Linked DNA regions of Homo sapiens. The protein of the gene in region 1 interacts with the protein of each later gene in a pairwise test. Each region holds a gene or a part of one and is shown on either strand. Other genes may lie near its edges.

Evidence for each region. Proteins that work in one complex are often made in the same cells at the same time.
Region 2: the proteins of TMBIM6 (region 1) and ADIPOR2 interact in binary tests that used the Homo sapiens proteins (3 or more experiments, as listed by UniProt).

Annotation. Positions count from the first base shown.
Region 1 is NC_000012.12:49,744,420-49,748,069, forward strand, and holds part of TMBIM6 (bax inhibitor 1), read left to right. Parts: exon of another isoform or gene 1-123; intron 124-3,650. UniProt on the Homo sapiens protein: Endoplasmic reticulum (ER)-resident protein that confers cellular protection as an anti-apoptotic protein by limiting multiple stress-inducing pathways surrounding the endoplasmic reticulum and mitochondria.
Region 2 is NC_000012.12:1,694,021-1,697,670, reverse strand, and holds part of ADIPOR2 (adiponectin receptor protein 2), read right to left. Parts: intron 1-3,650. UniProt on the Homo sapiens protein: Receptor for ADIPOQ, an essential hormone secreted by adipocytes that regulates glucose and lipid metabolism. Required for normal body fat and glucose homeostasis.

The DNA of each region.
Region 1 (3,650 bases):
AACCAAACTGCATGCAGCCCTTCGTAGTTTTTATACACATTTTGTTTTCCAAAGATGGTGTTCGAGACCAAGGAGAGAAAGGCTGTCTCCTTGACTTAAAGGTTACCTAAGTGACCCCTTGAGGTAGGTTCCACTCTGAGCCAGCTGGGGAATGTTGATTTGAGGTTACAGCACTCTTGATCTGATAATAGGGTCTAAATTTGCTCTAGAGACTTTGTAGTGCTTAAATCTTGGGGATAGCTGAGCTGAACCAGATGCAAGCTCTGCCCTCAGGGTGAGAAGTTTCTGCACAATTAACTGGAATCCAAAACACGTGAAAAAGGAGCTTCACCAGTGAGGGTGAAGTGGGTATGCTGTTTGTCTTAATTTATGTGTGCTCCCCATTTGGGCTAAATATGGTGTTATTAGGGAGGGATTACTGGTTTATACTGGAAGAAGATTATGTATTTAGGATTTTGGGGCCTTCTTAGGATTCAGTATCTGTCAAACGTTATAGAGAGGGAGATGAAGTAGTGTCAACGTTTGGTACAAAAAATAATTTACTGAAGGCAGTAGGCATTTCATCTCCAGTTACTGGTTTGGTTTTGAGGCAGCCCCCTGGAGGAGATGGATTCAGTATTAGCTAATCCAGGGATTTGGGTCCAAGTTAAGGGAGAGGCGGGGACATCTAGGGTGTCCACCTGGGAAGATCAAAGCTTGGTCCTAGTTGAATGAAACAATTCCTTGGATGGTTCCGAAACTGAACTGACCTACCTCCTGGGAGTGGCAGGGAAAGCATCAAGCTTTTGCGCATTTACTTCATCAAATCCTTTACCATATCAGATTATCACTTAGTGGCTATTAGGCTGTCTCAAAATGTCCATGGCCCTGTGGGACAAGAGAGATAGTATAAATGTGCTAGAAGAAAGGTATGCCATTTAAACAAAAGTACAGACGGGCCCCAATTTATGATGATTGGACTTAATGATTTTTTACTTTATAATGATGCAAAAGTGCTACCTGTTTGCTAGAAACTGTACTTCAGGCCAGGCATGGTGGCTCATGCCTGTAATCCCAGCACTTTGGGAGGCCGAGGTGGGCAGATCACTTGAGGTCAGGAGTTTGAGACCAGCCTGGCCAACATGGCAAAACCCTGTATCTACTTAAAATACAAAAATTAGCTGGGCATGGTGGCACACACCTGTAATCCCAGCTACTTGGGAGGCTGAGGCATGATAATCACTTGAACCCAGGAGGCAGAGGTTGCAGTGAGCTGAGATCGTGCCACTGCACTCCAGCCTGGGCAACAGAGCGAGACTCTGTCTCAAAAAAAAAAACCCAGCACATTTAGAATTTCCATCTTTTCCCAGACTAGGGATATCTGGTATGATATTTTCACATGAGATATTTAACACTTTATTATAAAGTAGGCTTTGCGTTAGATAGTTTTGCCCAACTTCAGACTAATGTAAGCGTTCTGGGCACATTTAAGGTAAGGTAGGCTAGGCTTAAGCTATAATGTTTGGTAGGTTATATGTAGTAAGTGCATAAATTACGATACTTTCAGTTTACAATGGGATTATTGGGATGTAACTTCATTGTAAATCGAGCATCTATACTTTTACCAGTAATGAGATTTTTCAAGTGCCTTTATGTTTCAGTTTATAATTTTCTTTTCTCTCTTTTTTTTTTTTTCTTTTTTGAGACAGAGTCTCACTCTGTCGCCCAGGCTGGAGTGCAGTGGTGCAATCTCGGCTCACTGCAACCTCCGCCTCCTGGGTTCAAGCCATTCTCCTGCCTCAGCCTCCCAAGTAGCTGGGATTATAGGCGCCCACCACCACGCCTGGCTAATTTTTTGTATTTTTAGTAGAGATGGGGTTTCATTGTGTTGGCTGGGCTGGTCTCGAACTCCTGACCTCAAGTGATCCGCCTGCCTCAGCCTCCCAAAGTGCTGGGATTACAGGCTAAAACTAGACTTTTAAAAGAGAATAATCTACTGAAGATATTGTAGTAATGAGTACACCAGTAATAACAATGTTAGTACACCAGTAATAACAATGGTTACCATGTATTGAACTCATTCTATGTACAAAGAGCTATTTTAAGAACTTTATTTGTATTATCTCACCTAATCTGCAACCTTAGGAAATAAGGATTGTTATGTACTAGTATTTTACACATGGTAGGTGAAACTGAAGTACAGTGAGGTTAAGTGCCAGCAGCTTGCTGCATGTCCCACTGCTAAGGAAATAACTAGGATTCAGAAGTAGCAGGCAGTCTTAACCACTATGCAGGGGACATGGTTATACAGTGTATGAACATTACTCAGTAGTAAAAACTAATGAATGGAAAGCTTTCTTGGCCAAAAACACAGAAGAAGAAGAAGAAGAAGAAAAAAAACTACTGACAAATTACTAACAGTTCTTCCCCCTCCTTTTTTTGTTTTTGTTTTTTTGAGACAGAGTCTGGCTCTGTCACCCAGGCTGGAGTGCAGTAGCGCAATCTCGGCTCACTGCAAACTCTGCCTCCTGGGTTCAAACGATTTTCCTTCCCTAGCCTCCTGAGTAGCTGGGATTACAGGCGCCCACCACCACATCTGGCTGATTTTTGTATTTTTTTACTAGAGACTGGGTGTCACCATGTTGGCCAGGTTGGTCTCGATCTCGTGACCTCAGGTGATCCACCCACTTAGGCATCCCAAAGTGCTGGGATTACAGGCATGAGCCACCGTGCCCAGCCCTTTCCCCTCTTTTAAACTATATGGGATTTTTCTTCTAAGTATCAATTTGGTCCCTTCTAGATATGTGGGAACAAGGTTCAGGATGGTTGAATTTATACAACAGGAAGAAAGAACCATGTAATTGACAAACTAATTTTTTTGTTTTAATTTTATAAAACGGTTTTGCTGTGTTGCCCAGGCTGGGGTGCAGTGACACATTTTTGCTCTGTTACCAGGCTGGAGTGAAGCAACATGATGATGGCTCACTGCAGCCTGAAATTCCTGGGCTCAAGCAATTCTCCTTCCTCAGCCTCCCAAGTAGTTGGGACAACAGGCGCACACCACCACACCCAGCTAATTTTTTAATTGTTTGCAGAGATGAGGTTTTGCTGTGTTGCCCAGGTTGGTCTGGAACTCCTGGGCTCAAGCGACCCTCCCACCTTGGCTTCCCAAAGTGCTGGGCTCACAGGTGTGAGACATTGTGCATGGCCTTTTTCCTTTTTTGTTTTTTGGAAGTGAACATAACCTTGAGACTTTATTGTCTTCATAATAAAACATAAACTGATATTTAATTAAATGTGCGAACAGTGTTTCTTTGACTTGCTGTTTTAATGTTGCTGTACACACTGAGGCAAAGTCTGTCTTGGCTCCAGCATTGCATAGAACGCATACTAAATCCACGATAGTTTTGTTTTGCATAGCTTTTGGCTACTTCAGCATGTTTCATGTTCACTGTAGCTCCTAGGTGTGTGGGAATAGGACTGAAGAGAATGGTTGTGTTTTTTTTAATTTTTAAATTTTTTTTACACGTAGTCTCGCACTGTCACCCATGGTGGAGGGCAATGGCGTGATCTCAGTTCACTGCAACCTCCGCTTCCCTGGCTCAAGCGATTCTCCTGCCTCAGCCTCCTGAGTAGCTGGGACTATAGGTGCCCGCCATCACGCCCAGCTA
Region 2 (3,650 bases), about 48 Mb from region 1:
AGTTGCCATAATAAGCTTTTGAGACTTTACATACTCATGTTGTGACTGATAGCAAGAATATAACTGTAAAACACAAGAATAAAGTGGATATAGTACTGCAGAATTTCATATACATCGTGTTAAGAGACAGCAATGTAACTGCAGCCAAGATATCTTTGGATGTGATGACTGAACTCTACAAGAAACATCCGGACTGATGCCAAAACTGTCAATGTCATCACAACTGCATGTTTTGAGATATTGGTTGCCACCTTGACATTCTTCCTAGGATAAGATGAAGAAGAGAAACAAATAGGACAGACTCAGAATCTGAGGATAAAGTGACAAGAGACCTACAAGTGCAGTATGTCACTGGGAAGAGTGGCTCCAAACACAAAACACTGAAAAGGTTATGAAAAGTGCCCAGGAAACAAAAGAAGAAAAAACTCACAGTGTTTAACTTTTAAGCTATTAGCTTTATTCATGATCCTCAAAGTTTTACCAAAACACTCCTGAAGCACACAGCTAGAAATCTCTAAGCAGAGGTTTGAGTTAACATGATGCTCATAAATCTTATCTCCAGATTGGCAGAAATTCATAAGCCCTCTAACTTCTATGCCTTTGGGCAAAAGTTTCTGCTGCTGCACCACAGAGAAGTAACAGAAATCACTGTTTGCTAAACATGCATTTCATCACCTGTTAGTCCCAGAGATCACTCAGTTATTGCTCATGACTGTGACCATCCATTATGTTATGGACAAGAACTTTAGGGAAGACATGACAGTCCAAATCAGTGCTATAAGAGGTAATAGCTCAATGTCCCCTAGCCATGACAGAAGAACTTCCTCAAGACCTGTCCCAGTATAAAACACACAAGGATAAGAATATGATGCTGTCTACTATAACTGTGATTCAGTTCTTCCAAATCCTCAGATGATGCAGAATTCCAGGGTAAGCTGACAGAGGCCCCAGTAAAATCAACAGTGCAAGAATATGGCCAGGGACAATGGCTCCTGCCTGTTAAATCCAGCTATTCAAGAGGCTGAGGGAGGAGGATCGCTCGAGGCCAGGAGTTCAAGACCAGCCTGGACAACATGGCAAAACCCTGTTTCTACAAAAAATACAAACATTAGCCAGGCATGGTGGTGCATGCCTGTAATCCCGGCTACTTGGGAAGCTGAAGTGGGAGGATCACTTGAGCCCATGAAGCGGAGGTTGCAGTAAGCTACGATTGCACCACTGCACTCCAGTCTGGGCAACAGAGTAAGACGCTGTAACCAAAAAAAAAAAAAAGAAGGAAAAAAGAAAAGAGAAAGAAAAAGAGAAGGCTGAAAATGATAAAGATGGGTGGGGAAGCACCAGTCTCAGTGAGGAGGAGGGTGCTGCTGGTGAATCTGTTGACAAGTAGAAACTGCAAGAAATCTCCTAGAAGCTGAACAGCACCCATGGAGGAGTGAAAAGCCAAACTAAACGATGACTTCTAGAAAATCTGCATGGCTCAACTAAGGAAAAAATTCAGTGCTGCCCCCAGGGAAAGCCCAAGAGGAAATGTATTGAAATAGTGATAAGGAGCAAGTAATTTTTTCTAACATTGATGACAGTCATAAAAAGCCAAAGTCTGACAAGGAGACATGACTAGCAACTGCAATGGCTGGACAGACCAAAAAGAATTTATGAGGAAGAAAACCAAAATGAATCATTTTCCAAATCCAGAGATAAAGAGAAAAAAGAAGAACTTTGATGATTAGGTATAGCCAGAATGTCCCGTCAAAAAAAATAAGCATTCCTTTGGGGAAAAGCTGCTGCCACTATGAGATACACTTAAAAAAAAAAATAGAAAAATAAAAAGAGAGAAAAAGTAACATCCAAGCCAGCCTTCCATTCCCAAAATAAATTGTCATTAATCTGAAAATTAGTAAATCAAGAATGTTTACATTAGAAAGTCCAAAAGCACTATATCCTGAAAACCACCAAAAAAGGTGAATGACTGCTGAATGACGGGTTTCGTCATTTTTTTTTTTTTTTTTTGAGATGGAGTTTTGCTCCTGTTGCCCAGGCTAGAGCGCAGTGGTGCAATCTCGGTTCACTGCAACCTCCACCTCCCAGTTTCAAGCGATTCTCCTGCCTCAGCCTCCTGAGTAGTTGGGATTACAGGCGCGCGCCACCATACCCAGATAATTTTTTTTTTAATATATTTTTGGTAGAGAGGGGGTTTCATTCATGTTGGCCAGGCTGGTCCCGAACTCCTGACCTCAGGTGATCCACCTGCCTTGGCCTCCCAAAGTGCAAGGATTACCGACGTTAGCCACCACCCTCAGCCCACTTTTTTTTTTTTTTAAGAGACAGAGTCATGCTGTGTTGCCCAGACTGGTCAGAGTCATGCTGTGTTGCCCAGACTGGTCTCAAACTCCTAGCCTCAAGCAATCCTCCCACCTCAACCTCCCAAGTAGCTGGAACTACAGGCGCAAGCCACCACTGGGCTTGATCCCATTTTTGTAAAAAATAACTCTCGGCCAAGTGCAGTGGCTCATGTCTGTAACCCTAACACTTTGGGAGGCTAAGGTGGGAGGATCGCTTGAGCCCGGGAGGTCGAGGCTGCAGAGCCATGACGGCACCAGTGCACTCCAGCCTGAGATACAGAGTGAGATCTTAAAAAAACAAAACAAAAAAAAAAAAAAAACTGCAACACAAAGAATAAGCCCTATGTAAACTATAGACCAATAAATAACAACATATTGATATGGGCTCATCAAATGCAATAAATGTGCCAAATTAATGCAAGATGTTTGCAATAGGAGAAACGAGGGAAGGGAAGGGAATATGGGAACTTTCTGTGCTATCGGCTCAAATTTCTGTACATCTAAAGCTGCTAAAAAAAAGTGTAATTTTTAAATTCTGAATATGCAGACAAATCTGCAAATAATTACTTGTATATGCACACAAAGAGAGGTGAAAAGACCTATATCAAACTGTTGCCCCTGGTTATCTACAAAGGATGAAAACTGGAAACTAGCGCATGAGAAGGAATTTTTTTACATTATACAGTTGGCCCTCCATATCCATGGGCTCTTATGTCTGTGGATTCAACCAAGCTTGGATCCAAAAAGTTTAATATAGCATCTGTATTTGAAACATGCAGACTTTTTTTTCTTGTCTTTATTCCCCAAACAATACAGTATAACAACTATTTACATAGCATTTATATTCTATTAGGTATTATAAGTAATCTAGAAATGATATAAAGTATTTGGGAGGATATGCACAGGTTATATGCAAATACTATGCCATTTATATCAGAGATTTGAGCATCTGTGCATCTTGATATTCACCAAAGGTCCTAGAAGCAGTCCCTACAGACACCAAGGGATGACAGTATATCTCTGGACTGTCTAAACTTTCTACACTGAGCAATAATGTAAGTAGAGGCTCTGTAGCATATTGTTAAGAATTTGGGTTTCTCAAATCAGACTGCATGAAATCAAATCCTAGCTCCACCATTTGCTAGCTGATAAACTTCCAACAGTTACTTAATTTTTCTCCTTGCCTTAGTTTCCTCACCTGTAAAACAGAAATCATAGTATACACTCACAGAGCTGCCACAGCAATTAAATAATTTCATACACGTAAAGTAGTGGAAATTGTCTAGTACATAGTAAGTGCTCAATAAATGT